Regions from separate parts of the Homo sapiens genome. Here all the other regions are reported to be linked to region 3. The links are microRNA targets in miRTarBase. Many come from high-throughput screens and were not tested one by one. Region 3 holds a microRNA gene; each other region holds the end of a gene's coding sequence. Distances are from middle to middle.

Evidence for each region. The annotated mature microRNA hsa-miR-330-5p reads UCUCUGGGCCUGUGUCUUAGGC and lies in region 3 at 2,041-2,062, shown strand. An mRNA with a match to its seed (bases 2 to 7 or 8) in the 3' UTR can be bound and repressed. Matches are read on the target gene's strand: a 7mer-m8 pairs with bases 2 to 8, a 7mer-A1 pairs with bases 2 to 7 and ends in A, and an 8mer does both.
Region 1: miRTarBase lists ZNF462 as a target of hsa-miR-330-5p. The part of its 3' UTR that is shown has no 7-base or 8-base seed match.
Region 2: the mRNA of ZNF154 is a reported target of hsa-miR-330-5p. Seed matches in the 3' UTR shown: 7mer-m8 at 2,198-2,204.
Region 4: miRTarBase lists ANXA5 as a target of hsa-miR-330-5p. The part of its 3' UTR that is shown has no 7-base or 8-base seed match.
Region 5: miRTarBase lists CASTOR2 as a target of hsa-miR-330-5p. Seed matches in the 3' UTR shown: 7mer-A1 at 3,484-3,490 and 7mer-m8 at 5,454-5,460.

The regions. Positions count from the first base shown.
Region 1 is chr9:107,008,916-107,015,359 of GRCh38, forward strand. It overlaps ZNF462 (zinc finger protein 462), which reads left to right. Exons shown (of 13, transcript NM_021224.6): 12 at 630-753; 13 at 1,908-4,719. The coding sequence ends at 2,115. The region is part of intron 4 of LOC340512 (a long non-coding RNA gene); the gene reads right to left. Among named protein-coding and RNA genes, the nearest start is that of ZNF462, 150 kb to the left of the region's middle.
Region 2 is chr19:57,698,919-57,701,918 of GRCh38, forward strand. ZNF154 (zinc finger protein 154) reads right to left here. Exons shown (of 3, transcript NM_001085384.3): 3 at 1-3,000. The coding sequence ends at 2,717. Among named protein-coding and RNA genes, the nearest start is that of ZNF154, 8.8 kb to the right of the region's middle.
Region 3 is chr19:45,636,127-45,641,110 of GRCh38, reverse strand. It overlaps MIR330 (microRNA 330), which reads left to right and starts at 2,024; the gene lies at 2,024-2,117. EML2 (EMAP like 2) reads left to right here and starts at 1,714. Exons shown (of 19, transcript NM_012155.4): 1 at 1,714-1,754; 2 at 2,238-2,266; 3 at 2,477-2,606. The coding sequence starts at 1,735. RefSeq lists silencers at 1,420-1,509, 1,530-1,809, 2,506-2,800 and enhancers at 1,185-2,036, 2,506-2,800, 2,037-2,888.
Region 4 is chr4:121,664,453-121,670,896 of GRCh38, forward strand. It overlaps ANXA5 (annexin A5), which reads right to left. Exons shown (of 13, transcript NM_001154.4): 11 at 5,502-5,560; 12 at 5,150-5,272; 13 at 3,494-4,075. The coding sequence ends at 4,016. Among named protein-coding and RNA genes, the nearest start is that of ANXA5, 29 kb to the right of the region's middle.
Region 5 is chr7:75,021,432-75,027,291 of GRCh38, forward strand. It overlaps CASTOR2 (cytosolic arginine sensor for mTORC1 subunit 2), which reads left to right. Exons shown (of 9, transcript NM_001145064.3): 7 at 443-525; 8 at 3,009-3,103; 9 at 3,203-5,860. The coding sequence ends at 3,268. It also overlaps a transcript of RCC1L not described here. Among named protein-coding and RNA genes, the nearest start is that of RCC1L, 49 kb to the right of the region's middle.

The DNA of each region.
Region 1 (6,444 bases), not on the chromosome of region 3:
ACTGGTTCCCACTCATCCAGATAAATGTTCATGGTAGATTCTTCGCTTGCAGATCTCATTCAGTGCACATAACCGCCCTGTAAGGTATTGATTATAATGTCTATGATGGATGACCACAAGTCATGAGCCTTCAGCCTTACTTGGAACAAGTAGAAACCCTGAGGTCCACAACACATAACCTGGTCCAGGGCTTTCGGTAGCCTATGTTCTTTTCAGTGAACAAAGATAAACCTGTGTCAAAAAGGAAATGAATAGATGCTAGCCTGTGAGGCACTGATATAAATCATCACACAAGGGAGAGAATAAATCGGAAAAAATAATGCTCAGATTCCTTTGGAATCTCGGGCAAGCGGCTCTTCAGTCAAGAAAGACCCAGATTTTGTGATAGAAGCATTGGGGAGGTGAGGCGAAATGAGGTCTTGGGGCCCAAGAACCAGAAACAGTTCTCGAATGCTATTCAAGGAATGCCCTAAGGGGGAAACCTAAGAAAAAGTGAGGAATCTGGAAATTGCTTTCACCACATGGCTTTATCAGTGAAGGTAGGAGAGAGGGTATCCTAATGAATGCTGACTTACCTATTCTGCTGATTCCCACAGCACACAGGTAACACTTCTGCTTTCTCTTTGCAGAGCTGATGAGATTTTCTGACCACGGGGCTGCTCTTAACACTGAGAAGCGTTTTCCATGTGAATTTTGTGGACGGGCGTTTTCACAGGGCTCTGAGTGGGAAAGACATGTGCTGAGACACGGCATGTAAGTTGGGCCACTTCAAGGATGCCTTTGTCCAAAGCAAGAGGTAGGGAGGGAGGGAGGGGCTCTTGTTTTGGTTCCCCTGACAGTATGTACACCCCTCTGTGTCACATTTCTGGGCCGTGGGAGGAGAGGCAATGGTGAGGAACCAAGTTTCTCCTTTTCTGTTGTTTTTTAAAATGGTCACCCAGCCGCAAGTCAAATAGGGAAAAAAATCGTCTTTATGAATGATCAGTCCTGCTCAAGCCTGTGTGCAGAAGTATAGTGTTTTCTCCAGCCAATATCCCTTTAGTCTTCATTAGCGTGACATTCTATAATAGAACGTGAATCGAGGTCAAAAGATCTGGCTTCTGTTCCTGCCTCTCTGACTGATCATTCCCTGAGTGGCCCTGAACATTCCCATGTACTGCCTCGGGGACAGAGCCAGCTTCTGCCTGCCTCCCAGGTAGGTGAGAGCATACTTGTAAAATACTTATGAGATCCCTGAACATAAAATCAGCCCCTCAACAAGGCACGTTAGTCCACCAGATGCAGAGAGAACCTAGGATGTGGTCTTTTCAGGAGGAAACATGGCTTGTGTGGTGATAGGAAGCCTGAAGCTTGGTCCCTGAAGCCTCAAGGGTCTAGACCTCAGAGAATATAACCAAGCTTCCCGAGACATGGGTTCCATCTTCAGGTTTTTGTTTTTAGTTTGTTTTCGTGATTTGTTTCGGGACCTGACAAATAAATCTTTAGTACCTGAGTTACTCTTTTAGACTTCATAAATATAACCAATCTCCAAGCTTCTGGGTTCAGCCGATGACTCTGAGCATAAGACAATTCTTGCTGTTACCACTTATGACCCAGTAGAGAAAGTGACATAAAATGATTATGCTTATCTAGAAAGAAAACATGGGATAATCAATATATAGTATAATAATGGATACTTCTGTAAGTTCAAATCTTTAAGATACAGAAATATATGACTTAAGCAAAACATAGCAGGGATGCATCACTTGGTATTTTGTCATACACCCATGGCATTTGTTCAAAGGAAACCCCAAGGCTTTTTGAGGATCAGGAAAATAAAGACACTCGAGGGTTTTTATTATTTTTTTGTTTAAAAAGAGAAATATATATACTATACTCATCTGTCTCTTCGATAAATGTTTTTCCAGGGCATTGAATGACACCAAGCAGGTGAGCAGAGAAGAAATCCACCCAAAAGAGATCATGGAGAACAGTGTTAAAATGCCCTCCATAGAGGAAAAGGAAGATGACGAGGCCATTGGGATAGACTTTTCCCTAAAGAATGAAACAGTAGCCATCTGTGTAGTAACTGCCGACAAATCTCTCCTGGAGAATGCAGAGGCCAAAAAAGAATGAGCGTTTGGTGAAATTCTTAATCAAACCTTACTTGAACAGTGATGAAAAAGTGGGAGGGCTGGCTTGGGCTGAGAAGGGAGGGACAGAAAAGAGAAGACAGAACAAAGCTGCTTTTTAGGACTGAACAATCTATTTTCAAAGCACTGGTACCTGTGTGAGTGAGTATGTAAATTAAAGTTATTTAAATGGTTGGAATATGTGGCTCCTTTTCCATCACTACATCTTTTCTTCCGGATCTTCATCATGGAAGTTTCATTTGTTGCGGAATATGGAAGCACCTCCCAATGGTACGGTGCACCCTGTGGTGGTCTTGGACAGTATGTGGAAACAGAAGCTCCATGACGGTAGAAGACTTCTCATTGGGGAGCAACTTTTTGACGCACAACTTTTGGTGCGTTTTTCTAGTTTTAATACCTTAAGCTTTTTCAAGACCTAACTGCAGCCGCTTTGGGAAAAAAAAACAAAAAACAAAAAACAGAAAACAAAAAAAAAAAAACTGCTTTGCATAAAACAGTCACCTGTTTCCTAGTACCTCAAACTTAACCAAGGGAACTCTCTGCATTTGTCAGTACTACCTGTCGTCGTTGTGGTTAAATGTAGAGAGAACTGCTGGGCAAGATGGTGAATGGAGAAAAAAAAAGAGTTTTAAAGAAAGGAACACAAATTGTGCTTAAAATCCCCATGTGGGTTTTATTTCTTAAAATACTGTGATTTTTTTAATTATTTTAGTAAAAAACAAAACAAAAAAAAGAAACAGACTTTAATTATTAGATAACTGTTTGTGAATTGTCATCCTTTATTCCAGGTAAGCTGTTTATTAGTGTTCAACTATAATTTAGAATTTGGTAGATTCATGTGAGCTAATTTTAAGGTGATTGTGGAGTTTTGTTTGCCACATGTTTATTTTCTATCAATTTGAGTGTTACAAACACAGCACAATTCAGTTTTTCATATGAATTGTTTTTCGTGTGTGTGTTGTTATTGTTGTTTTAATTTCGGGGCAAGGGAGATTTAGTTTTTTGTGAATAGGAATGTTTTTATTTTAAACATGGAAATAACAAAGAAGTTAACTTTCTTTTTTTTTTTTTTTTTTTTTTTTAATTTAACTAAAGAACCAAACTTTCGGCACAGCTATGCAGCTTGTGGGCCAGACGAGGAGGTCCTCCTCACCCTTTTGTTGCCTGTCAAATTCACGCATTATCCGTCTCATAAATAATTTCTGTTAGGATTGGCTGGCTTTTGTGTGTGATTTTAAAATCTGTGTTTTGTTTCTGCTGGCATTGTGTTTTGTTGGGGGTTTTCATTTATTTAGGGGACGAGGGGATGTACTAGAATCCCATCCCTTTCGTGAGAGTGGACAAGAAATAACATATCCTACAAGGAGCCTGGAGAACTACTTTCTTTCTTTCTTTTTTTTTTTTTTTTTTTTTTTTTAAATCTAGCTGCCAGCTGCTCTGTCCCCCATATCAGCTTTTTCAGGAGGGAGCAGCTTAGACTAAATCTAAGCCTACATTTATAATATGTTCTGATTGTGAACAAAGGGTTTCGTTCCAAAAAATAGAAAAGAACTTTTCTTGAAGCCTAGGTTTTAGAAGCCCGTGTGTGTGTGTGCTTGGATGTGTGTGTGCGTGTATGAGTGTGTGTGTGCATGTGTGCACGTGTGAATCCTTTGGTTTTCATGTTTTTTTTTTTTTTTTTTTACTTGGAAGGGTTGTGGGAGGGTGGGAGGGAAGAAAGGGAAGGGGAATTGCTGAGATGACAGTGTCCCACACAGCTTCAAATAAAATCCATGGAAAGATGTTGCATTTGTGGAATAAGTGCTTACTTGAAAAGCATGTTCTTCTTTTATTTTCTTACTGTTAAGAATTTTTATTTGTAGGATGTTTGTTTTAATTTAATTTTTTTAAGGGATGGGGGCCATCATGTGGAAACCAGAAAATGGGGAAAGTGTGAACTATCCAGACAAAGATTCATTTTGTGTCTATATTTGTTTTTAATTGGCCTCATTTCAAATGTATTAAACAGTTCCATACCTGGATTGGGTGTTTGTAATGGTTACCAAAAAACAAACAAAAAAAGAAAGAAAAAGGAAAAAAAAAAAGAAAATAATTGTGACATGCTTTTATCACTACTTTATTTTTCAAATAACATGTAAATATTGTAATCCATTGGATTTTGTTTTGCTAACCTGTTAATAAAAATATGGGACCATTATCCTTTTAACAAGGCTAGAATGTCATTTTTTTCTTTTTCAAACATATACCTGATATTTTGTGGCCGCACATTTTGGATGCATTATTATAATTCTGTTGACTGTAATGACATAGAATTTACAACATTTTTTGTTGTTGTTTAATTTATACAGAGGACATTTTTTTCAGAGCTTGAGAGAAGAAAATAAATAGCAAAATGATAACCTATTGACTCCAGTAATCAGTGTTTCCCAATACTTCATAAGAGATAGGGAGACCCTGAGTCCTTGAAGCCAAGGGTTTAAAAACAAAACAAAAACAAAAAAAACCACAAGTAGGTTATTCAAGTTGTTTGCAACATACATTTTGTAATGAAATGTGAGAAATTAATAAAGAATTTTTTTCACATGTGTCTATGTGCATCTGTTGTAAATCATTTACAGATATGACTACAGATATGAAATCTAGAAATATTATAGCACTACCTTTCAATGCTTGTACACGAGATATTTTAAGTCATTGAATCTACACAGGTATGGAAAGCAAAGGTAAAGCTGAGGTGAGGTTGAGGTTGAGCTGGGATTTTCAAATGTTAATATTTCTGCATCAGGTATTCATCACCAACTGAGGGAGTTTTAGGGAAGGAATATTTTCCATCAAAAATGTGAATCAAAGTGATGTGTGAACTTCAGAAGGAGGAAGCACCCGTGATTAAACATCATCTGGGACCCTGAATCCACAAGCACAGTCATTTTAAGCTAACTGCCAAGTCACACCCACTGCACAGGATCTATTTCAATGTTGCCGTCCTTGCTTATGAAAGCCTGCGCCACAAACTATCTTACTGAACATCCTGCAGCCATAATTATCACCATTAACTTATTCTTTGAGCTACCCTGTTATAAATCAATGGAAAAATTAATAGTCCTGAAACCTAGAAGAAAAGTAAATTAAAACCAACAGCATTAATTATTAACTCAAAGCTGAGTTACACTATCTGCCTCTACCAGTGTTAGAAGTATGGTTCCTGAATCATTTGTTCAGTGTTCATTCTAAAAACTTGGTTCTAACCCTTCCTCCTCCCCATCCCTATCAATCAATAAGATCGCATTCTGAGTACATTTTATATTCGAATACTCAAGAGATACTCAACCTTTTCTAAGGACTGCAGGTTGAGAAGTTTATCCTGTATGTTTTCAGAAAGGAGAGAAAGTGACTTAATGGACTTCACTGCGATACAGCTGTTCTCTCATGGTCTCCATGAAATATTTTATGAACAGTGCTTTTACTGAGTTCATGTCTAATCCATATTCTCACTTTGTTTATGTAAAAGAAATGGAATTTATTGCTATATAAGTCATGGTAGGGGGTGCAACAAGGCAAATCCTGAAATCTCTGGCTTAACACCATAGAGATTTGATTCTTACACACATTCCCTGTGAATGTCTGTGAGGTGTCCTAGACCTGTTGACTCGGGAGTCTGGGTTGCTCCATCTGGTGATGCTGTCATCTCAACACATGAATCTCAAGGTCAACGCTGAGAGCTTGGAAGTGTTTCACCCACTCAAATGCCTGATCCAGGAAGTAGCACACATCACTTTCAGCCTCTTTTTATGGGCTGGATCTGGTCACATTGTTCCACCTGTCCACAAAGGGACTGGGAAGTGTGTGAGCTTCCAGTGTGCTTAGGAAGAGCACGTGACCAAGCAGCCTCCACCATAGTCAGGAACTGGTAGAGAAAGAAACTCTGTTCTTTAGAAGGTAAAGGATGCTGATCCCACCGCATTGCTCATGCACTTAACCAAGATTTCTGAGCAAATATTTGGTGCTAGCTATAGCAAGAAACAGGACAGACGTGAGATGTGTCTTCTGACAGCTCATGAATGGTGAGCATAGATATGCAACATTTGGAGACGTGCCTTCCACTGGAGATGCTTGGGGCTTGCTGGACCCATTAGCTTCCTGGTGTGAGGCTTTGACTGTACCTCTGCATTGATAGTGGCAACCCTTGGGAAACATGGTCTTGATAGTAAATGTGTTTTTTCTGTCCATCCAAAAGAACATATTTGACTTAGAGAGGCATAAAAGAAATTGGTTACTCACATACATTCGTTGAGTCTTTTAGTCCTAAGTTTAA
Region 2 (3,000 bases), 12 Mb from region 3:
CCAGTAGCTGGGATTACAGGTGCATGCCACTATGCCCAGCTAATTTTTGTATTTTTAGTAGAGACGGGGTTTCACCATGTTGGCCAGGCTGGTCTCGAACTCGTGACCTGTGATCCACCCACCTCGGCCTCCCAAAGTGCTGGGATTACAGGTGTAAGCCACCGCATCTGGCCTCTTTTTTTTGAGACGGAGTCTTGTTTTGTCTGTCGTCCAGGCTGGAGTGCAGTGGCGTGATCTTGGCTCACTGTGACTTCTGCCTCCCGGGTTCAAGTGATTCTCCTGCCTCAGCCTCCCAAGTAGCTGGGACTACAGGCACATGCCACCACGCCCGGCTAATTTTTGTATTTTTAGTAGAGATGAGGTTTCAATATGTTGGTCAGGCTGGTCTCTAACTCCTGACCTTGTGATCCACCTACTTCAGCCTCCCAAAGTGCTGGGATTACAGGCGTGAGCCACCGCACCCGGCTGAGATTTTCTTACTTGAGTTCCCAATGGGTCGTAAAGCAGCAGAGACAACTCACGATATAAACACATTTGGCCCAGGAACTGCTAACGAATGTACAGTGCAGTGGTGGTTCAAGAAGTTTTGCAAAGGAGACAAGAGCCTTGAAGAGAAGTAGTGGCCAGCCACTGGAAGTTGACAATGACCAATTGAGAGCAATATTAGAAGCTGATCCTCTTACAACTACATGAGAAGTTGCCTAAGAACTCAATGTCAACCATTCCACGGCTGTTCAGCATTTGAAGGAAATTGGAATGGTGAAAAAGCTTGGCTGGGCGCAGTGGCTCATGCCTGTAAATCCCAGCACTTTGGGAGGCCAAGGTGGGTGGATCACATGAAGTCAGGAGTTCAAGACCAGCCTGGCCAACATGGTGAAACCCCATGTCTACTAAAAATGCAAAACTCAGATGGGCGTGGTGGCGGGTGCCTGTAATCCCAGCTACCTGGGAGGCTGAGGCAGAAGAATCGCTTGAACCTGGGAGGCGGAGGTTGCAATGAGCTGAGATAGTGCCATTGCCCTCCAGACTGGGCAACAGAGCAAGACTCTGACTCAAAAAAAAATAAAAATAAAAATAAATCATGGTTCAAAACCACAGTTACTTTTGCACCAACCTAACAAAATATGGTTCAAAATAAAAGTCTGAATTTCCTATTGTTTTTGGAAAATCAGGTTTGACAACCCTATGTTGATTCCACCATCTCTCTCCTCATGTCCTGGGAGAGGATTTTGCCTCAGTGATCACAAATACAAGTGAACAGTGAAGGCCATTTCCACCTGACTCAACAGAAATGTTGGCTGGATCACAAAGGCTGTATCAATGGCCTAGACCTCCCTTCTCTATCCTTGTTTTCCTGCCTGCATAGCAATGACCTTGAGGTGAAAATCCCAGAGGCTACAGGATTCCATAAAATTTCTGACAATGACCTCAGCTACACAAGATACACAATTCTGTAGGTCCTGAGGATTTCTGTACCTGCTCATCCTTAAGAGCCATAATAACGAACATCATGGAAACCTCTGTAAAAGGGGCACATTCTATTTATTGCAGTGTTATTGCAGTTTTCCACTCTCTATCAATCCAGTACTTCTATAACAATTATAATTCCTACTATAATCTTACCACCTGTGGTGCTACCCTGTGGAATTCAGGATATCAAGGCATACAGGACCTGGGGAACAGATTTCCCCCACTGGCACTGAACACGATGCAGTATTCCTTGTGAACAAGAGAACAATTTCATGTTGCTTTCAGAAACATCAAAGGATGTCAAGTAACTGCTGCCTCCTCAGGCTGACCTCTATGGCATCCAGGATATAAATTAGGACAATACCCTGTAGTTTTTTCTCAGAGGCCTTGAATAGCAATGAAAACTAGGCTCAAACTAGAGAGAGAGCTATATTCTGCCATCCTACTGTCCCTGTCCCTGTCCCTGTTGAGCTACACAATGTTTGGGATCTCCAAAAAAAGTTATTCACCCCTTCATGTTAGCAGAACCCAACTGTTTTCAAACCAACCCATACATATAGAACCCCCAAGATTAATAAGGCCTTTGTTATTGTACAAACCAAGGCAATAAGAGGCAGTTGGTTCCCACAGTTGGTGATTTGAAGGCTGGCAAACTCTATCAAGAGTCATGTGAGACCAACAATATCCTGAAATATGTAGTCCCTCTTTTCAGGTCACCAGCAGAGTCCTCTGGGCCAAACTGGGTCAGGTCCATGGCCTAACTCATCAGAAAGGAAAAAAAAAAAACGGAATAAATGCTTAGGCTATTTACAAATTCCTCCCATGAACAGAACACCAAGGTTCACTTACCTGAATACACTGGGATGGGTGAGTGGTGCACACTGGTGGTCACCTGCCAGGCAGTAGAGGTAAAATGGCTTCCACTATAGTATCAGCAGAGACATAAATCTGACATGGGCCCTGGGCAGGGCAAAAGGTGCAATGCAGTTCACACATACCTGGAATTTATGCAGATGTTCAGATATAGGATGTTCAATTCAGGCTGATGCCACCCTCATAAGGGATCTCCTTCAGAGCTGTTATATCAACTGGACATCCCTACATATCAAAAGTGTCTTTCCCTTGTGAACTGTGTGGCACTCAATGAGATATGGCCTTCAGCTGAAGCTTTCTGACATTCACTGTGTACTCAAGGACTTTCTCCAGGGTGCTAACAGATTTTCCACATTTGCCACTCATAAGGCTTTTATCGACTATGAATTCTCTGATGTTTAATAAGGCTGGAGTTATGGCTAAAGGATTTCCCACATTCCGTGCACTCATAAGGCTTCTCCCCAGTGTGAACCCTCCTGTGCTTAATGAGGCCGGAATTTTGAGTAAAGGATTTCCCACATTCACTGCACTCATAGGGTCTTGATCCAGTGTGAACTCTCTGGTGTTTTCGGAGACTGGAGCTGTAGGGAAAGAACTTCCCACATTCACTGCACTCATAAGGCCTCTCCCCAGTGTGAACTCCCCGATGTTGAAGGA
Region 3 (4,984 bases):
TAAAGGTTGGGCGGGGCCGTAGGGGCGTGGTCAAATGCCAAGAGGTGCAGCCAACTTGGAGGCCTCGAAGGTATTCACATAAGGAATACGTGAAAATGGACGTAATCAGAATGCCTGGCGGGCCGGAGAAGGAGCGTTGGCGGGAGGTAGCAGTCAATTCTCAAGCAACTGAGTCAACTCAGGGACAGGGTTAGAAGGGAGGCTCAGAATGACAGGCGTGGTCAACTCCAGAGGCGGGGCCATACTGAAGATCTGGACAGAGTCAAAAACTAAGGCTATATAATTCTAGCAGTTTGGGAGGCGGAGGCGGGAATCATCGCTTGAGCTCAGGAGTTCGAGACCAGGCTGGGCAAAATAGCGAGCCCTCGTCTTTACTAAAAATGAAAATAAATTAGGCCTGGCGCGGTGGCTCACGCCTGTAATCCCAGCACTTCGGGAGGCCTAGGCGGGTGGATCACAAGGTCAAGAGATCGAGACCATCCTGGCCAACATGGTGAAACCCCCTGTCTATTAATAATACAAAAATGGGCGTGGTGGCGCGTGCCTGTAGTCCCAGCTACTCGGGAGGCTGAGGCAGGAGAATCACTTCAACCCGGGAGGCGGAGGTTGCAGTGAGCTGAGATCGCGCCACTGCACTCCAGCCTGCTGACAGAGCAAGACTCCGTTAAACAAACAAACAAAAAACAAAAAACAAAAAACAAAAAAAAAAAGAGAGAGAAAGAAAATAGCCGGGCGTGCTGGCCTTCGCTTGTAGACCCAGCTACTTGGGAGGCTGCGGCAGGAGGCTCACTTAAGCCTAGGAAATTCGAGGTTTCAGTGAGCCATGATCACGCCATTGCACTCCAGTTTGGTCGACAGAGCCACACCCTGTATCAAAAACAAAACAAAACAAAAATCACCCTAAGGCTGGAGTTATGGTGCAGTGGGCGTGGTCAGCGCTAGGAGGCCACGCAAGGGCAAGACCAAGGTCAAAAGCTGCACATTTCAACTCTGCTCAAACATAGCAAACACAAATACAGCGTTGTGTATACTCCAGGCACTTCCCAATAATTAACCAATTTCACCCTCGCAACTACCCCCGGGAGGTGTGAGTACTCTTATTTATTTATTTATTTTGAGACGGAGTCTTGTTCTCGTTGCCCAGGCTGGAGTGCAATGACACAATCTCAGCTCACTGTAACCTCTGCCTCCCGAGTTCGAATGATTTTCCTGCCTCAGCCTCCCAAGTAGCTGGGATTACAGGCGCCAGCCACCACGCCAGGCTAAGTTTTGTATTTTTAGTAGAGACGGGGTTTCACCACGTTGGCCAGGCTGGTCTTGAACTCCTGACCTCAGGTGATCTGCCCGCCTCGGCCTCCCAAAGTGCTGGGATTACAGGCATGAGCCACCGCGCCCGGCCGGGTACTCTTATTATCCCCATTTTTTAAATGAGGAAACCGAGGCAGAGGTTGGACGACCTGTGTACACTGCTAGGAATTAGCAGAACTGGGGTTTTAACTCAAGCAGGCGCGCTCCCGAGTCCATGTTCTCAACCACTCTCCCCCACCCACCCCGAAAGAACCTGGGATCGGGAGTCCACAGCCCGGGATGTGTGACCCGGTGGGACCCTCCGGCTCCAGGGGTGGCTGTGGAGGGCGGGGCAGGGGCGCGGCGGCCCGGGCGCCTCCCAGGGCCGGAAGCGGCAGAGCCGGTCCCGGCTCCACCCCCGGCCCCGAAGCTCCGCCACCCGCCGCCATGAGTAGCTTTGGAGCTGGGTGAGACCCTTTCGCAGACCACCCCCCATCTCCTCTCCGCGCTCCCGGGGCTTAGATCTCAGGTTTCACCCAACCCCTGGGACCCAGACCGGCGTGGGGACACGCCCCTTCCCTTAAACTCTCCCCGTTTCTCCCTCTGCTTGACGTTTGGTGTGCTGGGGGAACTGCGGGTGGGGGGCGCTGGGGAGCACCTTGCTGATTAGGAGGGAAGGGTCCTTGGTGACTCCCTTCTTCCAGGATCGCGTCCCTGCCACTTCGTGCTGTGTGATCTTTGGCGATCACTGCCTCTCTGGGCCTGTGTCTTAGGCTCTGCAAGATCAACCGAGCAAAGCACACGGCCTGCAGAGAGGCAGCGCTCTGCCCCTTACTCGGCCCCGTTTTCATCGGAGACCTCCGGGGAGCGGTGGGGGTGGAGGAATGGTTTCTCCCCTTTTCTGAACTGAATACTAAGACCCTTTTTTTTTCTTTGTCCTTTCCTGACAGCAAAACCAAAGAAGTTATCTTCAGTGTGGGTGAGTGGGGAGATGGGGAAGGGCTCGGTGGAAGCTTGCTTGTTGGGGTGACAGGCTGGAGCCAGAGGTCAGGAGTCTTGGCTACTGGGTCTTTGCCTCTCTGGCCTCAGTTTCCCTGCCTTTAAAAAAATAAATAAATAAAGCTGGAAGAGGAGAGGGAATAGGGATGGGGCTGGTGTCAGTGCCTGACCTCTGGGGGTGTCCTGGCAGAGGATGGCTCCGTGAAAATGTTCCTGAGGGGCCGCCCTGTGCCCATGATGATCCCAGACGAGCTGGCACCCACCTACAGCCTGGACACACGCTCGGAGCTGCCTTCTTGCCGGCTCAAGCTGGAGTGGGTGTATCCTTTTGCTGGAATCTCCTTGGTGCTCCCATCCCCCCAGGAGGAAATAGAAAGGCGGTCAAGGCAGCTCAGGCCTGTAATCTCAGCACTTTGGGAGGATCGTTTGAGGCCAAGAGTTTGAGACCTGCCTGGGCAACACACAAAACAAGCACAGCACGTTCAAGGGCTATGTGGCCAGAGTGGGATTGGTGCATTTGAGCAAAAAGAGTTGGGAATGGCTGGAAGCCCGGGCTCTGGAGTCTGACAGAGATGGGTTCAAACCCCAGTCCAGCCCGTACCTGGCCGTGTGACCCTGGAAAAGTCGTCTTGACTCTGAAAAATGAATTTTATGATCTCAGGTCCATAGACCTGTGAAATAATGTGTAAAGGTACTGAGCTCATAGTATGTGCCCCATGCACAGGGACTGATAAAACACTAACTCAGCACATTGGGAGGCCGAGGTGGGTGGATCACTTGAACCCAGGAGTTTGAAACCAGCCTGAGCAACATAGCAAGACCTCGTCTTTACAGGAAATAAAATAGCAGGCCGGGCGCGGTGGCTCATGCCTGTAATCTGAGCACTTTGGGAGGCCGAGGTGGGCAGATCACCTGAGGTCAGGAGTTTGAGACCAGCCTGACCAATATGATGAAATCCTGTCTCTACTAAAAATACAAAAATTAGCCGAGTGTGGTGGCATGTGCCTGTAAACCTAGCTACTCGGGAGACTGAGACAGGAGAATCGCTTGAACCCAGGAGGCAGAGGCTGCAGTGAGCCGAGATTGCCCCACTGCTTTCCGGCCTGGGCCACAAGAGTGAAACTCCGTCTCAAAAAAAAAAAAAAAAAAAAAAAAAAGAAAAGAAAAAGAAAAAAAAAATAGCCAGCCATGGTGGCATGCTCCTGTGGTTCCCAGCTACTCTGGAGGCTGAGGTGGGAGCATCACTTGAGCCTGGGAGGTCGAGGTTGCAGTGAGCCATGATTGTGCTATTGCACTCCAGCCTGGGCGACAGAGCGAGACTCCTTTCTCAAAAAAAAAAAAAAAAAAAAAAAAATCCAAAATAATAACTCAAGCACTTACTATCTGACAGACACTGTTGTAAGTTATTCCAGGTATGAATTTATTTTTTTACAACTAGTGGCCTCCAAGAGCTCTGAGGCCTACAGTTTGGAAATTATTATACCTCCTTTCCAGATAAGGAAACTGAGGTTATAGGTAGGAGACAACAATCCTGATTCTGGGACCCAAACTTTTTCCTAAAATCCTATTGAGCTTGGAGTCCACACCCCAGGAACCCGGTCCTTGTCTGCTTCTCTCTGGGCCTTGGTTTCCTCTTTGGAGGAGCCAGGGTGGTTGGTGAAATGGCCTGGCCTTCTGGGTGCCCAGAGCCTTCTCGAGGCAGCTGGAAATATCCCCTGGAATCTGTCCCAAATGTCCTGCCAGTAGGGCTTGATAAGCATCTGATGAGAGGTGGCTGAGACTGCAAAAGTGAGGACCTCAGATTGCTCCCCTTTGCAGTGACTGCAGGTCAGAGCAGTTTCATGGGGTCAGGATATATGTATATTGACAATCATTCAGATATTTTCTTGTTTTTGAGACACCCAGGCTAGAGTGCAGTGGCACGATCTTGGCTCACTGCAACCTCCACCTCCTGGGTTCAAGCCATTCTTCTGCCTCGGCCACTACAGTAGCTGGGTGGCATGGGCCACCATGCCTGGCTAATTTTTTTGTGTGTTTTTTAGTAGAGACAGGGTTTCGCCATGTTGGCCAGGCTGGTCTTGGACTCCTGACCTCAAGTGATCCACCTGCCTCGGCCTCCCAAAGTGCTGAGATTACAGGCGTGAGCCACCGTGCTTGGCCCATTCAAGATATTTTCTGAACATCTGAGACATAGGGCTGGGGACCCAGTGCTGACCATGACAGCATCTGCCTGCCCTCCTGGGGCATACAGTCTAGCATGGGAACAGACTCATTGAGAGTGACAACCCAGAGTGTGCAAGACTGGGATGGGGAATCCACAGGGACAGGGCTGACCCAGCCTGGAGTCATGGAGGGCTTCCTGGAGGAGGAGATACAGAAATGAAAAAAACAAAACAAACAAACAAAAAAAACAGCCCAATCTCAGCCACCATGGAACTCACAGTCTTATTGGGGAATATGAGCAGTTAACAAATAAACCAGATAACTATCAGCTTGGGCAACAAAGCGAGATCCCATCTCTACAGAAAATTTCTTTTTAATTAGCCAGGCAGGCTGGGTGCATTGGCTCATGCCTGTAATCCCAGCACTTTAGGAGGCCAAGACAAGTGGACTGCTTTAGCCCAGGAATTTGAGACCAGCCTGGGCAGCATGGCGAGACTGCATCTTTACCAAAAATATACAAAAAATTTGCTGGGCA
Region 4 (6,444 bases), not on the chromosome of region 3:
AATGGTAAATGAGCACTGGCTTCAGCTTAACATCACCAGCTGCATTGGCCCCTAAAGAGTCAGCCTGTTCTTTGAAGCTTTAGCCAGGCATTGATGTATCCTCTCTAGCTATAAATTGCATCTTCTAATAGAAGGCTGTTTGTTTACACTAAAAATCTGTGGTTTAGTGTAGCCTCCTTTATCAATTATCTTAGCTAGGTCATCTGGAGAACTAGCTGCAACTTCTGCATCAGCACTTGCTGTTTCAATTTGCACTTTTCTATTACAGAGACGGCTTCTTTCCTTAAGCCGCATGAACCAAAACTGCTCACTTACTTTTCTTCTGCAGCTTCCTCACCTCTCAGCCTTCATGGAATTGAAAATTAGGATCTTGCTCTGGATTGGGCTTTGACTTAAGGGAATGTTGTGGCTGGTTTGATCTTCTAACCAGACTACTCAAACTTTCTCTATATCAGCAATACGGCTATTTCACTGTCTTAATCATTCATGTGTTCAATGGAGTAGCACTTTTAATTTTCTTCAAGAAAGAAAATTAAAATTTACATTTATTCTCAATTTGGCTGTTTGGCACCAGTAGCCTAGCTTTCAGCCTGCCTTGGCTTTTGACCTGCCTTACTCACTAAGCTGAATCACTTTGAACTTTTCATTTAAAATAAGAGATGTGTGAGTCTCTTCCTTTCATTTGAACACTCAGAGGCCATTGCAGGGTTATTAATTGGCCTAATTTCAATATTGTTTTGTCTCAGGGAATAGAAAGGATCAGAGAGAGAGAGAGAAAGAGAGAGAGAGATGAGGGAACAGCCAGTCGGTGGAGCAGTCAGAACTCACATATTTATCAATTAAGCCCACTGTCTTAAATGGGCATGGTTCATAGCACCTTAATTATGACAGTAACATTGAAGATCACTGATCACAGATCACCATAAGATACATAATAATGAAAACTTAAAATATTGCAAGGATTACCAAAATGTGACAAACAGATAAAGAGTGAGCACATGCTATTGGAAAAATGGTGCTGATACACTGACTCAATGCAGGGTTGCCACAAACTTATGATTTGTTTAAAAAAATTTTTTTTTAATTGTTTGCAAAGTACAATAAAACAAGGTGTGTCAGCATGTACAAAGGAGATTAGATCTTTGTTGTATGAACTGTAAATGTTTTCCCGTTTGTCATTTAAATTGTCTTGGTGGTGATTTTCCCTCCCTCCCTCCCTCCCTCCCGTCTTCCCTTCCTCCCTTCCTCCCTCCCTTCCTTCCTTTCCTCCCTCCCTCCCGTCTTCCCTTCCTCCCTTCCTCCCTCCCTCCCTTCCTTCCTTCCTTTCCTCCTTCCCTCCTTCAGGCTCTCTGCAGCCTTGTGCTCCTGTGCTCAAACAATTCTCTCACCTCAGTCTCCCAAATAGCTGAGACCAGAGACGTGTGCCACCACATCCAGCTAATTTTTTGTTTGGTTTTTTAAAAAATAAAAATGGGGTTTTGCCATGTTGTCCATGCTGGTCTCAAACTCCTGTGCTCAAGCAATCCACCCACCTTGGCCTCCCAAAGTGCTGGAATTACAGGCATGAGCCACTGTGCCTGGCCTGCCTTCCATGTAGTTTTTGATTTTTAGGAAATCAAAAATAATCATCTTTTCTCCTATGGCTTCTGGATTTTGGGTGATAGAAAGGCCTCACACTTCAAGATCATTATGGCAGACATGGAACTGCACCACTTAGATCCCCTTTCAAGAAAATACTCAGTTCCAAGCTGTGAAAATGTGGGTTGCTGACAGCCTTCCAACTCTTAATCTCCTTCAGGTTTTGCCTCAGCTTTCCAGCCAAGCCAAGCTCTTCTCCAGAAGACACTTAGCCAATAATTGAGTAAGGAAGGTGGTGGCACAGGGCCCAGGCACTTCTGTCTCACAAAGGGCTCTTTGCAGGAACTCTTTGCCTCAGAGTTCCACATGATACTGGCAAAGATTTGGTCAGGTCTGCAGTGCAATCTGATGACACCCCTTGCCCAATCCTGCCTTCTACCTGTTCCATTCAATAAACCTGTTGCATCCCTAACTCCATCTCAGCATCTGCTTCCCAGAGAATCTAGAAGGTGCAGGTATGATGAAATCCCTCCATGCTTCTTTCTCATATGTTTATGATTTTATTTTTAAGTTTAAATGTTTCATTTTGAGAGTTACCTGATACATGAGGTATAGAAAAAGCCTTATATTTTCCTAGATGGCTCCCCAACTGTCTTCACACCATTTGTTAGAAAAAAATGCTATCTTTACCCAGCAAATTAAGACCTACCTTTAACATATACTAAATTTCCAAATGATTTGTTTCCATATCTGAACTTGCTGTTTTGTCTGTCTATTCATGCCACAGTATTATACTGTTTCAGCTATTCAGGATATGTAGTCTAATCTGTGTAAAGAATAGAAGAATAGTGCTCCCTCACTACTCTCAAGTTTTACTAACAATCCTTCCTTTTTTGCATGATGTTTACAATCAGCTTATCTAGTTCCACAAAAATTTGTCTCCCAATAAACTCACAGAGAGCTGGGAAGAAGGTCACTAAGTAAATAAATATAGCAAATGTTTTTTGTGGATTTTTATTTTTTTAATTCTTTTATTAATAAATTTTCAGATCCAGACCTACAGAAAATATAGCAAATGTTAAAGCTCACAGGTGGATTTCTCTTAAAGTGTTACTAATAAATAATCCAGGGCTTATATTTAAAGCCAGTGGCCTATTTTCAATAACAGAACAGAGCTCTTTGAAACATATCATCTTCTATGTGAAAAGTATAACCAACTGATTCTCAACTTGCCTCTGCATTAAAATTGCCTATGAGGCCTCTCAAAAAAACAAAAATCCAATATCATGTGTACACATACAGTTTTTAAGATTCCCCTGGTTATTCTGATGAGCATCAACGGTGGTGAAAAGAATATTATCACTATTTTAAAGTTTTCAAAGGAAGATTAGTTCATTTTATTTAAAAAAGCTTATTAATGGCAATTACTTGGCTTTAAAAAAAAAAATGCAACCAGAAGGGCATAAGTACAAAAAGAAAAATGACACCAACTGAAATGGCAGTTTGAAAACAGAAAACTGAAAGGCAAATATTAGAAGAGATCGATAAACTGCTTCTTTCTAGAAAAAATTATTGTCTTTTTTATTTATCTCAAAGAAAGTGACAGACAGTAAATGGGAGGCAAGTTCACAATAGGAAAGAGGAAAGAGAAAGGTAGTACTCTGAATTTTTGCATTAAGTTTTATAATTAGCTTTTCTACTAAGCAAGTAGCACCACAAGCATTGCTTTAATAGATGCCTAAATAAACATGGTGCAAATAAACCAGAGACCCCTTCGATCTTTCCTATATTTAGGAAAAATCATGTACTATGAAGGAAATTCAGTCTATGGTTTGCATTTCTTACTGCCCAAAAGACCAACTGTAAATTCAGTTCTCAACTAACACCACTGTCAATTATTAGCTTAAAAAGAGAGAACATTGTTAAATAAATTTAATAATAAATCTAAACACACATGTACACATAATTCAGGGGGACAGAAATGTTTATTTTTCATTAATCTTTTGAATACAATCATCATAATTTTACAGGTTTAGTTTAGTTGCGAACTTCACTAATAACATTTCCAAGAGTTCACAATTTCAAGGCTAAGCTTCTGATTAAAGTATCATGGTTACAAATGTAATATAAATGGAGTTTTTAAAAAAGGCTAAAAGCACTCTAGCCTCTTAAAAAATATATATAAATGGAAAATGGCCAGGCATTAAACTTAGTAACATTAAGTACACTTTAGTACTACAGCAGTCAAAGAGATCTCCACTAGAGATCAGAAAGAAGCACCACTATTTTCTTCTATGACGTGTATGTGTTGGTCATGAGCATGCTAGTATGAATAAGGCAATGTGTTAAGCACTGGCATACAAATGCAGCTAAAGGTGCTGAAGGAAGGCAGTGGGGTGGTGCAGGCACACAGCAGGGAGCTCTTCCCCGTGACACGTTAGTCATCTTCTCCACAGAGCAGCAGAAGAGCTTTCTTATAGTCCCCAGATGTATCTCCCTGAAACCAAATGTATTCCATTAACCTCCATGACTCACAGAAGCCATAGAAAATTTTAAAACTAAATAACTGGCAACAAATTTTATTCATAAGACTCTTCTCCCAAGTGGGTAATCTCTGTGACTTTCACATCAGGAATGTTATGCAGGGAGTTTCCTACCAATGTAACCTCAGACACTCAGTATTCCCTCTGGTAACACAAAGAATCAGGCAACTTTAACAACTATAGTCAAATCAAGCCTTCTAGACAGAATAGTTTCTATCACTTGGTATATATCAGCTAACACGGGCAGTGCTGGGGCTGCAGGGCTGTCATGGCTCTCCCTCCGAGACAGAAGGGCAGAACATGCTTTGCATCTGCTTGTCTCACATGCAGACATGCATGATAAATTAATGTTTCAAGCTAAAAGTGCATGGGTAAACTCTCTAGTGTCCTTTGGGCCAGCCAAACCACAAACATGCTAAACTAAAAGCTTCTGCTCAATTGAAATCTTGCTTTGCACATGGTCCACATTAACCTTTACTGGAAAAAAAAAAAAAAAGTCAAAAGACTTTAAGCTAAATGTAATTATAGGCCACAGAGCACCTTGTTTTAAAAAGAACAAAAATGATACTAATACCTAGGGGCTCTTTACTCCCAATATGACCTGGTTGGCTCTTTCCTGAATTAGAAACCAGCATCAGAGATAAGGTGATAACAGACGATAAAGAAAGGAAAAGCTGATATGAAATAAAAGAAGGACTAATAAAGACAGCTGGAATTGATAAAAGACAGAAAGAACACATTATTATCATAGGCAAGGGGTTTGGTTTGTTGAGTCATCTGTTACCACTACTAAATAATGCTTCTGAGTTCACCAAGAGCCTCAGCCACATCAATACCCATGCTTTCACTTGGGAGCCATCATCTCTACTTCAGGAAACATTATGCTAAGCTTTTTAACTCATTGCTCTAATCGTGTCACTAAAATTTTAAACTTAACACAAGAATCAGGTTCTCTTATCCTTGTCTTTCATGCAACATACCAGTCTGCTTTGGATTCCCAAACGTAATTTAAAGAAAGGTTCTACTACCTTAATCATGGAATAAAGAGAGGTGGCAAAATTCTTCCTAAACTCCTTCCTGATGTTAAACAGATCAATCTCACTCCTGGAAACCATGACTCTGATGAGGGTATGATCATCTGTCCCAGCTCCCTTTAAAAAAAAAAAAAAAGAGAGAAGCAAAATGCTTAAAAACTTCAAACATAGGATCAAATGCTCCCGGGTGCGGGTGAATCAATAAGGTATAACAATTTAGTAGAACTGGGTTGAATGTTATAAGGGAAAAATTCCCAAGGTCTATCATCTAAAACATAAACAAAAGTGAAGAATAATAATTAGAAAGAGAAATGTATTAGATAGAAGGTTCATGGTCTCCACTTACCTTCATAGCATAATAGAGGGTCTCTGCAAGGTAGGCAGGTATACTTCGAATAGATTTCACTAAGAAAATAAACAATACAATGGTCAAATGCTATTTTGATATGTAAAGGATTAAGTAATTAAAAATCAAGTGCTGCTTCCTGCTTATAGCTCTACTTCTATAAAAACACAAAAGTACCAGAGGCTAAAGAGCTGTAAGCTAATCTGATTTCCTCACTCACCAAGTATTTTCTTAGACACTGGCTTAGGTTTTCCTTGGAGTTCTGAGGTCTGCATAGAAAGGCATGGAGAATAAGGGCACAGGTTTTTCTATGCGCCTTGGTTCTGTGAAGACTTTTTGGATACTGCAGTTTGGGCAGCCTGGATTGTTATCATAATACCACAACATTCTTCATCACCAATAAATTACACAAATCCCTTGGAAGTTTTCATTCCAAGACATTAAAGCAAATAATACAAGATTACTACCTAATTTTTTTAAACTCTTGGGTGATCTTCCTATACTCTCTACATATTCTTTAATATCAATGATTCACACAGAGCAGCATGAGATTTATCCATTTCAGTACAAAAACAGATAAATCAATATCAGAAAGGATCTCTTCTCTGAACATGTACATGTTGAATGTAGGTTGGGGCTGCTCAGACCTCAGTCTGCTTAGCTTCAGAAAATCTATCATGAAAATTCCTTAATATACAAAAATAATCCTTGCATGTGGAGATTTCTTAATTCTCCCTTTTCTAAGTCTTAAGAAAAACAGCCACCAGTAACTGAAAATGTCTTAATTTGTATGCGTATTCTAATTATGAAGGACCTGTCTAAAAGTTTTCTGGTAAAAGTACATTAACTGTGTACTCAAGTGAAAGGCTACTTTTAGAGTTGGTTCATGCAGATCTTTAGCTTAGTCTCCTGAAGACAGAGAGCACAAAAGTGTGAGCTCAAG
Region 5 (5,860 bases), not on the chromosome of region 3:
GTCTCTAATAAACCCTCACCATAGCACTTCATCATAAGTAAGCTGGTCCCCCAGCTCAGAGAGGTGCAGGGGTTGTCCGAGGTCCACTGTGGGGTGGTGGCAAAGTGGGGATTTGAACCGCAGCCCCGGTGCTATTTCTCCCTCAGCTTGTGCTCTGGACCTGGGAAGAGGTGTCTAGACCAGCCTTAGCAAGGGTTTGGGGAGGGGCTTGTTACAAAGCCCAGCCTGACATCACCCTCCCCATCCGCCTCCCCTCAAGACGAGGAGGCCGCCGGGCGAATGGGTCCAGGGTGTCTGGAAGGGATTGTTTTTGGGGGGCCCTGAGGTCTGCCCAACCCTGCCTGGCCAGCCCCATGCCTCGCTCTGGCTGGTGCACCAGCACACCAAGGAGGGAGTGCAATTCACATCAGCCTCGGGGATTCTTCTCTCGCTCCTTTTGAAGGTTTCCTAGTAACTTGCTGTTCACAAGCGCATCCGGAGAGCTCTGGAAGATGGTCCGGATTGGAGGACAGCCCCTGGGGTTTGGTGAGTCCTGGGGGGATTACATGGGGAATTGAGGGAGCTGGCATTGCTGAGCCCATTCACATACGTTGTCCGCAGTGACTCGGCCCCTGCTGGGGGGTACAGATGGGGAGACTGAGGCTTGGGGAGCCTGAAATTTCTGTTGCTCACTGGTGTGTGGCAGCTGTACACAGGCCTCTTGGGGAAGTGCGGAGCAGGCTTCAATCGGAGTGCTTTTATTTTGCCCCCTCTTGAAATTTAATATGTTGCTTATTATTAGAAAATTAAGCAGCTGGGCGCGGTGGCTCGTGCTTGTAATCCCAGCACTTTGGGAGGCCGAGGTGGAAAGATCCATTGAGCCCAGGAGTTCTGTACCAGCCTGGGAAACATAGCGAGGCCCTGTCTCTACCAAAATTTTTAAAATTAGCTGGGCATGGTGGCTGGCGCCTGTAATCCCAGCTACTCAGGAGGCTGAGGCAGGAGGATTACTTGAGCCTAAGAGTTCAAGGCTACAGTGAGCCATGATCATGCCATTGTACTCCAACCTGGGTGACAGAGCAAATCTTTGCCTCTAAAAATAAAAAAAGAGGCTGGGCGAGTTAGCTCGTGCCTGTAATCCCAGGTCTTTGGGAGGCCGATGCAGGTGGATCACCTGAGGTCAGGAGTACCAGCCTGGCCAATATGACGAAACCCCATGTCTACTAACAATACAAAAAATTGGCCAGGCACAGTGGCGTGCGCCTGTAATCCCAGCTACTCAGGAGGCTGAGATGGGAGAATCGCTTGAACCCAGGAAGCAGAGGTTGCGATGAGCCAAGATCGCTCCATTGCACTCCTGCCTGGGCAACAGAGCAAGACTCTGTCTCAAAAAATAATAATAAATTTAATTTAAAAAAGAATAAATTGGGGCTGTGATAAAAATTAAAGAGAAAAAAAATCACTCCTTATTTCCACAGCTCAAAGATAATAACTGCTGGCAATTTTTTAACATGTTTTCTTCACGTAAATACATGTAATTGTCACATATCTCCCAGAGAGTCTGACACCCAACACTTTACTCCTAAATGCCTCGCCTTTTCCATCCTGGGAAGAAGCACCGGGCAAGGTGGCTTACGCCTGTAATCCCAGCACTTTGGGAGGCCGAGGCAGGAGGATCACAAGGTCAGGAGATCGAGATCATCCTGGCTAACACAGCAAAACCCTGTCTCTACTAAAAATACAAAAAATTAGCCGGTCGTGGTGGCAGGCGCCTGTAGTCCCAGCTACTTGGGAGGCTGAGGCAGGAGAATGGCATGAACCTGGGAGGCGGAGCTTGCAGCAAGCCGAGATGGCGCCACTGCACTCCAGCCTGGGCGACAGAGCGAGAGTCCACCTCAAAAAAAGAAAAAAAAAAGAAGAAACACTTTCTCCTATATAACCACAATGACAGGATTCCACAGGAGAAAATTTTCAGTCATTCCCTAAGACTTAGTCTTTCCTCTGTTTCCACAGTTGTCCAGACAACGTCTTTGGTGGATAGCATTTTTTTTTTCTTTTTGTTTTTTGTTTTTTTTTTTTTTGAGACCGGATCTTGCTCTGTTGCCCAGGCTGAAGTGCAATGGCGCAGTCTTCGCCTCCTGGGTTCAGCCTCCCAAGTAGCTGGGACTATAGGCACGTGCCACCACGCCCGGCTAATTCTTGTAGTTTTAGTAGAGATGGGGTTTCACCATGTTGGCCAGGCTGGTCTCGAACTCCTGACCTCAAGTGATCCACCCGCCTCGGCCTCCCAAAGTGCTGGGATTACAGGCGTGAGCCACCACTCCCAGCCAAGGTGCCACACTTTTAAATAGCCAGATCTCGTGAGGACTTACTGTCACGAGAACAGTACCAAGAGGATGAGGCTAAACCATTCATGAGGAATCCACCCTCATAATCCAGTCATCTTGCACCAGGCCCCACCTCCAATACTTGAGATTACAATTGGAGGATTTGGGCAGGAACACAAAGCCAAACTATTTCACTGGCCAGCGACCAGAGAAGGCTCCTGGTTGGGGGACATCTGGGTTAAGCCTTCAAGAGGGATGGCCAGTGGGAGGCCAGGCACGGTGGCTCACGCCTGTAATTCCAGCACTTTGGGATGTGGAGGTGGGTGGATCATTTGAGTACAGCAGTTCGATACCAGCCTGGCCAACATGGTGAAACCCCATCTCTACTAAAAATACAAAAAAATTAGCTGGGCATGGTGGTACACGCCTATAATCCCAGCTATTTGGGAGGCTGAGGCACGAGGATTGCTTGAACTCAGGAGGTGGAGGTTGTAGTGAAGTGAGCTCACGCCAGTGCACTCCAGCCTGGGCGATGGAGCGAGACTCCATCTCAAAAAAAATAAAAGGGATAGCAGATGGGAATTCTCTAGGAGGATGGTGGGTGCAGGGTAGGCATTGCCCACAGAGGGTAGAGGCTGAAGAGCCACACAGGCAAGGGTAGCCAGGTTACACAGAGGCTAAGGACGGTCTCTCCTGTTCTAGATGAGTGTGGCATCGTGGCCCAGATCTCAGAGCCCTTGGCTGCTGCAGACATCCCAGCCTACTACATCAGTACTTTCAAGTTTGATCATGCACTTGTGAGTGTCCAGCGCCAGACCCCTCCAGGGCAGGGCCGGGGTGGGGAAGCAGGTTCCTGGGCTCACGGGCAGGCATCTGCCTCCTCTACCCCTGCACAGGTCCCCGAAGAGAACATCAATGGTGTCATCAGTGCCCTGAAGGTCAGCCAAGCAGAGAAGCACTAGAAGGGTCTCTTCTGCTCCTCCCTGCCGCCGCCCGGGCCCAGCCCTAACCCTGAAGATTGATCTTGCAGTATTTCTCTACAGACTGGAAAATCAGCCTGGGGACCCTGAGGAAGGGGCCTCTGTGGGAGACTCCCTCGATTGCCAATCCCTCCAGGGCAGGGGCCCACGCCAAGGCCTCTCCATGCCCTCCTGCCTTCCCGGAGCCCCCCGACCCTCCAGAGAACGACCTTTCTCTTCCCTACCTCCCCCACCCCGGAAAATGCTTTCGGAGGCCCAGGGAGCTTGTGAGCTGATCCGCCTTCTCATCCGGCCTCACCCACGGCCAGGGGCAGATGCCGAGGGAAGCCGGTCCCTCCTGCGAGACACCGGTGTGCCAGCTGTCATGTCACCTTGCAGGGCTGGGGCTGGCGGGGTGGGGCCGAGTTTGGGGTGCCCTGGAGGGTTTGGGGGTGAGTACTGTGGTCACTGGTCTCTGCTTCCATCAGCTCAGGGCTGGTTCCCTCGGAGTGGAGGCCAGCGTGGCCCCCTCAGGTCATCGGGGCTGGTGAGGCTCAGACAGGAACCCAGGTGGGATCCCCGAGCTGGGAAGGACCCAGACTCCCCCTGTACCTCGCCTGCCAACCACAGGGCCTGGGCCCGACTCCCAGCAAGACTGCCAAGAGGGCCCTGTCCAGACCCTCCCCCACAAGCACTCAGTCCTTGGGGGAGGAGGGAGGGTCCCAGGAGACCCACCAGCCTGGAGCACCAGCTCCTGTCCCCTCGGCTCTCCCTGGACCCGACTTGGGCAGGTAGAGCCTCAGCTTCCCCCAGTAGGGACATCCCTGGCTTTCCAGGCCTGAGGTTTCTTAGGTGGTGTCCCACCTCCCCAACAGACAACTAGACCAGCATAGGACTCCCCGCCGTCCTCCTCCCTCCTCTGCCCCCAAGTCACCTGCCTGCCCACCCGCCCCTTGGCTGGGGGCTGTGGCATTCATGAGTACTTGACCCAGGAGGCAGCTTAACTGAGCCTTAATAGAGAAAACCATACTTTGTTTTAGTTTTTTATTTAATGTATTTGCACCCAGGGTGCTCTTGGCGGTAGTTTCTGTTTGGCAGGGATAGGACCTGTTTGAGTTCTGTCAAGGGAGCCTGGAGGCTCTGTGTCACTAAGCTGGTGCTCTGTGGCTCCAGGGACAGGCAGTGGGAATCGGGAGATGTCACAGGAGCCTGGGCCCTCTCTTCTGAAGGGAAGCTAGGAGCAGAGATCTGTTACAAGACGCTGGAGCCGCTGGCACCCCACATGGGAACTCCCACCAACCAGCTGTAGTTCTATCTGAGCACCGGAGGGGGTGAGGGAACCCGAGGGCCATGGGGAGGTGGACAGCCAGGTGGCAGGCCAGCTGAGTGGTCATGTCCAGGAGGCATGGGGTTAGCCGTGGTGTCCCTTCCAGTGGGGTGGTTTTCTGAATGAGCAGGACCAAGGGCCCCTGTGGTTTTGGCTCTGGCGGGGGTTTTTTTTTTTTTTTTTGAGATGGGAGTCTGGCTCTGTTGCCTAGGCTGGAATGCAGTGGCACGATCTTGGCTCACTACACCCTCCTCCTCCCAGGTTCAAGTGATTCTCCTGCCTCGGCCTCCCAAGTAGCTGGGATTACAGGCACGCACCACCACGTCTGGCTAGTTATTGTATTTTTTAATAGAGACGGGATTTCGTAACATTGCTCAGGCTGGTCTTGAACTCCTGAGTTAAGTGATCCGCCTGCCTCGGCCTCCCAAAATGCCGGGATTACAGGCGTGAGCCACCACACCCAGCCGAGTTGTGCTGTTTCTGTGGTCAGAGGAGAAGGGATATTTTCTAGTCCTGACAAAGTGTTCCCTGCTTCTCTGAGTGGGACCCTCTGAGCCCTGGAAGCCCACCAGAAGGAGAAGCTGTTCTTTAAAATCCTTGTGGGTGTTGAAGGCCCACCACATTAATTAGAAACCAACTTTTTTTTTTTTAAGTTAATTTGTTTTGCACAAAACTCCAGAACAAAACTCGTACATTGCTGGTCCCAAAAGGGAGGTGGCCAAGTGGGGCAGGGCTGTGGTGGAAGCCCTGAGTCCCCTTTCTGACCTTGCAAGGCCTTGATTTTCCTTTCTGTCATTTCCCCCTGACGGTGTCACTTCTCTGCCTTTCCTTCCCGCCGTGCAAGTGTGTCGGCCCCGTGACCCCAGAGTCGTGTGTCCCCTAGACTTCCTAGGACGTATCTATTGTACACACCTATAAATACCTGTGTTTTATGTTGATAGAGATATATACTGTAAATAGCATATATACTTGAGCAATATATATGTTAATATATACTGTGTGCGCAGTCCGTGGACACAGCCCCCCGCTGTGTGTGCACACGTGTATGGGCGTGATGGCCTCCACCCCGCACCGTCTGCCATACACGCGGGCACATTTGAGCCACCATATATTTTTAATTCAAGTATATAGGCAATACGATTATTACAGAAGCCGATGGGTTCCCTCAGACCTGACTTGAGAGAACAAAGCCAGCAGCTCAAAGAGCCTGTGACATGGGACGTGGGAAGGGTGCTGAGAGCCCGCTGTGGCGTGGGTCATGCCTTCTG